3 separate regions of the Homo sapiens genome follow, and all the other regions are linked to region 1. The links come from fine-mapping of genetic effects on gene expression. A gene starts in region 1. Each other region holds a variant in brackets. All regions are shown on one strand. Distances are from middle to middle. Region 1 holds the start of BIN2 (bridging integrator 2). Region 2 overlaps BIN2 (bridging integrator 2). Region 3 overlaps TFCP2 (transcription factor CP2).

The links. PIP is the estimated chance that this variant, and not a neighbour inherited with it, causes the effect.
Region 2: its variant is fine-mapped to the expression of BIN2 in whole blood (TOPMed, PIP 0.98).
Region 3: its variant is fine-mapped to the expression of BIN2 in whole blood (TOPMed, PIP 0.96).

Annotation. Positions count from the first base shown.
Region 1 is chr12:51,322,847-51,325,555 of GRCh38, forward strand. It overlaps BIN2 (bridging integrator 2), which reads right to left and starts at 1,328. Exons shown (of 13, transcript NM_016293.4): 1 at 1,176-1,328. The coding sequence starts at 1,256. LOC105369767 (a long non-coding RNA gene) reads right to left here and starts at 1,162. Exons shown (of 2, transcript XR_944957.3): 1 at 882-1,162; 2 at 1-357. RefSeq lists an enhancer at 854-1,043 and a silencer at 1,074-1,563.
Region 2 is chr12:51,278,797-51,281,551 of GRCh38, forward strand. BIN2 (bridging integrator 2) reads right to left here. Exons shown (of 13, transcript NM_016293.4): 13 at 2,242-2,732. The coding sequence ends at 2,703. Among named protein-coding and RNA genes, the nearest start is that of SMAGP, 9.8 kb to the left of the region's middle. The variant G/C (reference allele first, on the strand shown) is at 1,363.
Region 3 is chr12:51,165,623-51,168,381 of GRCh38, forward strand. The region is part of intron 1 of TFCP2 (transcription factor CP2); the gene reads right to left. Among named protein-coding and RNA genes, the nearest start is that of TFCP2, 6.1 kb to the right of the region's middle. The variant T/C (reference allele first, on the strand shown) is at 1,396.

The DNA.
Region 1 (2,709 bases):
CCTCCCTTCCATTGTGGTCTCTTAAAGTCAGGAGCTACATCTACATTCCATCAGTTTTCTGCTGATAAATCAACTCGGGAGAGCTGGTTGCCTTTAAGCCTTCCCAGGGCTCAAAGCAGTGCTCCACTTTTAGAAGATAATAGGGATATTTCAGTTGGTAAGCAGAGCTGTTCATCCAAATGCTTCTAAGTCCATCAGCTCTTAGAAAACCAAAACTTCTCCGTTGTAGAAGGCAGGTTGGGCTTAATAAAGAGAGAGAGAAAAAAAGGAAAACCGAAACTCTATCTCAGGTCCTTCTTGTCTTTCTTCCCTCGCTCTTTCTTCTGGCTGACATGTCTTCCCAAACCGCCTTGTCTACTAGAGGGTTGGTAGGTGGAGAGCAGAGGCTCAGGTTAGAAGCAAAGAAAATATTCTGTACAGGTAGAAACAAAAATGCCATCAAAATGTGTAGAGAATGTCCCCACAATTTAGATTGCCAAGCAAGTAATAGATGGGCAGCCCACCTAAGTGCCAGTGCTGGAGCAGGGCTACCTGACACTAACCAAGGACACACTCTGAACACAGATGTGGTTCATCACCCTGGGAGGTGTACTCCCCAACGCCAAAGGGAGGGTAGAAGAAGCAGATTTGGGCTCCTGCTTACGTCAGCTGAAACACCACCCAGAGGCCAGGCAGGGTCAGGTAGGGGGAGAACTATGCAGGATTATTCTAAGCCTTTGGTGGGGGGTGCCTGCTGGCATCCGCTGCATCGCTGTTTTTGGGGAAATTGCCCTCTATGGAAAATTACCCTCCAATTTCATCATCTGTAAAATACCAATTTTGGATTGCTAGCACAAAATTTGATACAAAGGTGGCCACCACCATCACTTCCTTTCTTTCACCTTTTCTGGGTCAGCCTGAGGGTTGTCGAAGGTTCTGCCCAGAGACTGTTGTCTCCCCAGCTTCCCTTATCCTTGCCCAAGATCGGGTGGCGGTCTCCGACCTCTCTCCAATCTGCCAGTTTTCATGGAAGCCCACTCCTCGCTCCCGTTTCCCTGGGAGAGCGGGAGACCCTTCTCGTCAGCCCAGACCCTTCGGGGCCCCTGAGCACCCTGCCCGCCCCTCCTGCCCGGCCGGGCTCGGCCTCGGCCTCGGCTCCCTGTGGGCCAGACAGACAGCGAGGCCCGGCCACCTACCTTCTCCTGGGCCCTGCTAAACTTCTTCTGCACCTGCTTGGCGAAGAGGCCGGCCGCGCCGCCTGCCTTGCCCTCTGCCATCCTGCCAACTCCCTGGGGGCCGCCGCCCTGGCCCCGCGCCCTGTGGTTTTCTGAGGCCCCCGAGGAGGAAGTGCGGGCTCCCGGCATGCCTCGCATCCGGCCCCAGCCCTGAGCCACCTCAGGCCGCCCCTGGCCAGCCCTGAGGCCCGCCCCTCAGCCCACCACTGTCAGCTGGAGCAGGCCGGCTCGGAGGGGCGGGCCCGGGGCCTACCCTCAGGCAGCGCTCGCTCGAGGCCAGCTTCCGAGCTCCAACCCCTGCCCGAAACCTCGGCCTCACTGAACCAGGTCCTCAGTGGTGGGCCCACACTCACTCGCTCCGGAAAGCCAGTTCCCATCACGCTGAGCACTGCAAAGCAACTGCCACCGCAGGGTAGAAAATGATGTGGGTTCCACTCAGCGAGAGGACCTACCATATCGAAAACACGTTTAGGTTCTCTGAGTATGCATGCGAAGCCGCCATGTACACTGCGTTTCTTGCTCCAGGTAGGCTCTAAGCCTGGAACTGGTAGGGATAGAGTGCAGAAAGCAGGCAGGACACCCGAGCCGGGCTTGAAAGAGAGAAACAGGCCGGGCGCGGTGGCTCACGCCTGTAATCCTAGCACTTTGGGAGGCCGAGGCGGGTGGATCGCCTGAGGTTAGGAGATCAGCCTGACCAATACGGTGAAACCGCGTCGCTACTAAAAATACAAAAATTAGCTGGGTGTGGTGGCGCACGCCTGCAGTCCCAGCTACTCGAGAGGATGACGCAGGAGAATTGTTTGAACCCGGGAGGCAGAGGTTGCAGTGAGCCGAAATCGCGCCACTGCATTCCAGCCTGGGCGACAGAGCGACAGTTCGTCTCAAATAAATAAATAAATAAATAAATAAATAAATAAATAAATGAGGAACAACTAAGCTGGAGATAGAAACAGGGTAGGGGGCTGGTTCTTAGGCAAGAGAATGATCACATTGAAAAAAGGCTGAGGAGGATAGTATGGACGCCCGTGCTGAGCATGAGGAGCAAGTTTTTCTAGTTGGAGTACAGTGTACTGGATGGAGGCAGAATGTGAACACAGACACAGATTGTGCAAATTGGGGTGCGGCTGTTGAGATGACAACTATTGTTTCTTTAGGGAGAAGTTCTCCAAAAAATTCCTCCCTGACCTGTTTGAGGGGATAGCTTGAGATTAGGACACTAGGTGTGGAGGAACCACGTACTCAGATTTTACAGTGCAGGTTAAAATTTCCTCAAGGCAGGGAAGAAGGTCAAAATAACACTTCCTAAGGAGTGGAGGGGGAAGATAGGGCCTGACACAAAATTAGAGGCCCTTGTATGCTACTGTGTTCCTCTTCTTTCTCCAAAACAATCATTACTGCACTCAAGGTCAACTGTGTACCAGGCATTGCTGGGTGTTCTGAAACAAGGATGAATAAAATGCAGTCCCTGACCTTAAGATGCTTAATGAAGTCTGGC
Region 2 (2,755 bases), 44 kb before region 1:
GGATTACAGGTGAGAGCCACCACGCTCAGCCCCAACATATCGTTTATTGCTTAATTTTGTCAGTTTGTCGCTTGCAACCAGAGAACCCACATAAATATACTTCTTTCTGCAGTCATTGTTAAAAGGAAAGACACCACCAAGTTCTAGTCTCTCAAGCCTAACTTAGAATAATTCCTGGCCAGGCGATGGCTCACACCTGTAATCCTAGCACTTTGGGAGGCCGTGGCAGGTGGATCACCTGAGGTCAGGAGTTCGAGATCAGCCTGGCCAACATGGTGAAACCCCATCTCTACTAAAAATACAGTTAGCAGGGCGTGGTGGTGTGTGCCTGTAATCCCAGCTACTTGGAGGCTTAGGGAATCACTTGAACCAGGGAGGCGGAGGTTGCAGTGAGCCGAGATTGCACCATTGCACTCCAGCCTGGGCAACAGAGCAAGACTCCATCTCAAACAAAACAAAACAAAACAAAAGAAAAACACCTCACTTTTCATCATGTGTGCCCTTCTAGCCCGTCACTAAATCTTGCCCATTCTGCTCCTTGCTCAATATTCTGTCTCGTTAAATATCTTATTTTTAACACCCCTCATCATTGTTTCCCTGGTTCCTAGTACTGGTACTCAGTGCTTGGTAGACGGTTGATGCTCAGTAAATGCTTGCAGAATGACTGAACGAATGGTGATATCATCACCTCTAAAAACAAGAGCAAGGATGGAAAGGTTTTGGCATTTATGTGGCATTTATCAAGTTGGCAGGACTTCAGAGCTATTTTGAAAATGTCACAAATATTTTCATATAAAGTAATGATAGGACTTGAATCCAAGACTTCCTTTTTTAATTTTTTCTTTTTTTTTGAGACAGTGTCTTGCTTTGTCACCCAGGCTGCGCAATCTTGGCTCACTGCAACCTCTGCCTCCCAGGTTCAAGCAATACTCCTGCCTCAGCTTCCTGAGTAGCTGGGACTACAGGTGTGCGCTACCACGCCTGGCTAATTTTTGTATTTTTAGTAGAGACGGGGTTTCACCATGTTGGCCAGGCTGGTCTTGAACTCTTGACCTTGTGATACACCTGCCTCGGCCTCCCAAAGTGCTGGGATTACAGGTGTAAGCCACCGTGCCCGGCCTTTTTTTTTTTTTTTCTTTTTCTTTTTAAGACAGAGTCTCCCTCTGTCACTCAGGTTGGCATGCAGTGGTATGATCGTTGCTCCTTGCAGACTCAACCTCCCAGGCTGGAGTGACCCTCCCTCCTCAGCCTCCTAAGTGGCTGGGAGTATAGGTGCGCTCTACCGTGCCTGGCCTAGTTTTTAAATTTTTTGTAGAGATGGGGGTCTATGTTGCCTAGGCTGGTGTAAAACTCCTGGGCTCA[G/C]GTTATCCTCCCGCCTCAGCCTCCCAAAGTGCTGGGATTAAAGGTGTGAGCCACCACATCCAGCCCTTTAAAATTTTTTTTAAAAATAAGAGATAGAGGTCTCATCATCTTGCCCAGGCTAGTCTCCAACTCCTGGGCTCAAGCAGTCTTCCCCTGTTGGCCTCCCAAAAGAATCCAGGACTTCTGACTCCAAATTTCATGCCATTTCTAGGATAGGATTTTTTTTTTTTGAGACAGTTTCACTCTTGTTCCCCAGGCTGGAGTGCAATGGCACAATCTTGGCTCACTGCAACCTCCGCCTCCTGGGTTCAAACGATTCTCCCGCCTCAGCCTCCCGAGTTGCTGCGATTACAGGTATGCACCACCACGCCCGGCTGCTTTTGTATTTTTTTAGTAGAGACAGGGTTTCTCCATGTCGGTCAGGCTGGTCTCGAACTCCCAACCTCAGGCGATCCACCGGCCTCGGCCTCCCAAAGTGCTGGGATTATAGCTGTGAGCCACCGCACCCAGCCGATATGATTGTTATTATTATACTTTGTATCCTTTCAGTTTCATATCTTCCTCTCTTGTGCTCAGACCCTTACTCATACCAAGTACTAAATTGTAAACACCAGATATAGCTCTAAAATGTTATTACCCCTTTCCAAGTGTATCTGTTTATCAACCAAAGTGGGGAGTGGGGAGCACATGCAGGATTAAGGAGAAGAGTCTGTGGCCCTTGGTATCATAAAAGAATTACAGTCAGGAGTTAGGGTGAGCTGGGGGTCAGGGATGTGACTAAACCTTTCTGAACCTGGGGCAGAATCAATAACCATACCTAAGTGGAAAACAGTGTGCTGGGTTGCAACAATGCCCTTTGTCAAATAAACAATCCACAGATAGTCAGAATCAGACTTTATTTAACAATCTGAAAATGTGTTCTTCCGGCTTTAAGTCTTGCAAAATGGGTCGTAAGTCAAAGACAGATTTGTTCACTATCCTCTGAGTGTGTGTGGTTATGTCTCTGTATAGGCAAGTGTCTGTGTCTATAGATACTTTTGCTTTTTATAGTGATTAAAGCTCCACTTTAGTTAATGTATAAAGTCTTATTCTAATAATGCTAAAACCAGAATTAAATATTCCCTGAGTCTAATGTTCTCTTCTCCCCAGCCTGCCTCCCTCCATCCCTCCCGTAAGGCTGCTCCTCCGCCTCCATTAATGCCAGGTCTTTAGACAGCACCAGCATTCCTACTGAGAACCCAGGGATGGATGCTGGCTCTTATATCCCTCTGACCTATACCCTCTGGTTGAAGAGCTTCTCTGGCGAGGTTTGGGGCAGGAGGAGTCTTGGTAGTTTCTCTTCAGAGTTGTGGATTTTCACTTGTGGATACCTGGAAAGTAAACATGATTGTGT
Region 3 (2,759 bases), 160 kb before region 1:
GTTTAATAGGTACAGCATTTCACTTTGGGATGAAAAAGTTCTGAAGACAGATCATGGTGACAGTTGTACAACAACGTAAATGTACTTAATTACACTGATCTGGACATTTTTAAAGGGTTAAAATGATAGAATTTTATGTTATGTGTATTTTACCACAATAAACACACACATACACACATATTCAGCAAACTAGGAATAGAAGGAAACTTATTTAACACTAAAACGGCATTTATGAAAAACTCTGAGTAGGGCATGGTGGCACATGCCTGTAGTCCCAGCTACTCAGGAGGCTGAGGCAGGACTGCTTGATCCCCGGGAGTTCGAAGCTGCAGTGAGCCATGAACATGCCACTGCACTCCAGCCTGGGCAACAGAGTGAGACCCCATCTCAAACAAACAAACAAAGAAGTTGGCCAGGCATGGTGGCTCACATCTGTAATCCCAGCACTTTGGGAGGCCAAGGCAGGTGGATCACCTGAGGTCAGGAGTTTGAGACCAGCCTGGCTAACATGGTGAAACCCCGTCTCTACTAAAAATACAAAAATTAGCTGGGTGTGGTGGTATGTGCCTGTAATCCCAGCTACTTGGGAGGCTGAGGCAGGAGAATCGCTTGAAGCTGGGAGGCAGTTGCAGTGAGCTGAGACCATGCCATTGCACTCCAGCCTGGGCAACAAGATCGAAAACTCCATCTCAAAAAATAATAATAATAATAAATAATAAATAAATAAAAGTTAACATCTGTGAACAGCCTGGGCAACATAGCATGACCCTGCCTCAAAAGAAAAAAAAAGGAAAGAAAAAAAAGATGACATCTCTGACTGTGGGTCACTATATTAACAGATGCTTAAAGTTGTTTTTCAGGAATTAGGGGACAGCTCTTACCCAGTTGAGACCACCAATCCCTCAACTGGACCTGCATGAGTGCCCAAAAAGTGACCTTTTCATGTCAGAGGGACAAAAACTCCACACTTAGATCATGTTAACACTGCCATTTTCTGCACATGGCCTATGAAGAGCAATGTAGCTCAATTACGCTTGTGCAGAAACCTTGATTACCTCACCTTTCCTACCTGCCAATCACCTTTCCCCATGCTTTAGACCACCCTGCGTCCTACCCCACAAATACTGCCAAGCCCTATTTTCAGGGTGCCAGATTTGGGATTTGCTCTCCTGTCTCCTCATTCAGCAGCCCTATGAATAAAATCTTGTCTCTTTTGCAAAACCCATCATCATAGTGATTGGCTTGCTGCACGTGGGCAGGACGAACCTAGTTTGATATCATAACCATCATCACAAACAATTTTAGAACATTTTTAACACCCTGAAAAGAAACTCCATTCCCACTAGTAGTCCCTCTCCATTCCCTCCTCCTCCATAGTTCTAGTCAACCACTAAT[T/C]TATTTTCTCTACAGATCTGCCCATTCTAGAAATGTCATAGAAATGGAATCATATGTATGTGGTCTTTTGTGACTGGCTCCTTCACTTATCATGTATTCACAATGAATCTCCTTTTCCTTTTAGTATAAAGTTTGTGCCACAATAAAAATATAAGAAAAAAAGAATAATAAAAGGACCACTAATAAGGATTAAATAAATCTAATTAAGATGACTCTTTATAAAATACAAATTAATAGATTTGAAGATGAAACCATCATAAGATGCAACAGAAAATAAACTAGGGTAAAACAAATGTGTCAGAGAAGATATTTTATAAAACAAATTGCTTGTCAAAGAGAGTATTTTCCCTAATAAAGATGTAGAACGTCAGACTGATTGACATTTTTTTTTTTTGAGACAGTCTCGCTTTTGTCCCCTAGGCTGGAGTGCAGTGGCTCGATCTTGGCTCACTGCAACCTCCGCCTCCCAGGTTTAAGTCATTCTCTTGCCTCAGCCTCCCGAGTAGCTGAGATTACAGGTGTGCACCATCATGCCCAGCTAATTTTTGTATTTTCAGTAGAGACAGGGTTTTACCATGTTGGCCAGGCTGGTCTTGAACTCCTGACCTCAAGGTGATCTGCCTGCCTCAGCCTCCCAAAGTGCTGGGATTACAGGTGTGCACCACCATGCCTGGCCTGATTGACTCTTAGAACCAGTTGGCAAAGATTATTGCTGGAGGGTGGCACACTAAGATCCAAGGTCTTATTAAAAGGAGAAATAGGCCTGGGAACCGCGGCTGACATGTGTAATTACAGCAATTTGGGAGGCCAAGGTGGGAGGATCTCTTAAGGTCGGGAGTTAGAGATCAGCCTGAGCAACACAGCAAGATCTAGTCTCTACAAAAAGTAGAAAAACTGGCCAGGTGTGGTGGTGTGACCCTGTAGTCCTAGCCAGTCAGGAGGCTGCAGCAGGAAGATCACTTGAGCCCAGGAGTTTGAGGCTGCAATGAGCTACAATCACGCCACTGCACTCTAGCTTGGGTGACAAGAGTGAGATGTCGCCTCCAAAAACATAAATAATAAGACAAAATTAAAATTAAAAAAAAATAAAAATCAGGGCTGGGCACAGTGGCTCACACCTATAATCCCGGCACTTTGGGAGGCCAAGGGGGAAGAACTGTTTGAGCCCAGGAGTTCCAGAACAGCCTGGTCAACATAGGGAGACCCTGTCTCTGCAAAACATTTAAAAATCAGCCAGACATGGTATCTCATGACTGTACCCCCAGGTGCACTCCAGCCTAGGGGACAGCTACTTGGGAGGACTGCTTGAGCTCAGGAATTCGAGGCAGCAGTGAGCTGTGATTGAGCCACTACACTCCAGCCTT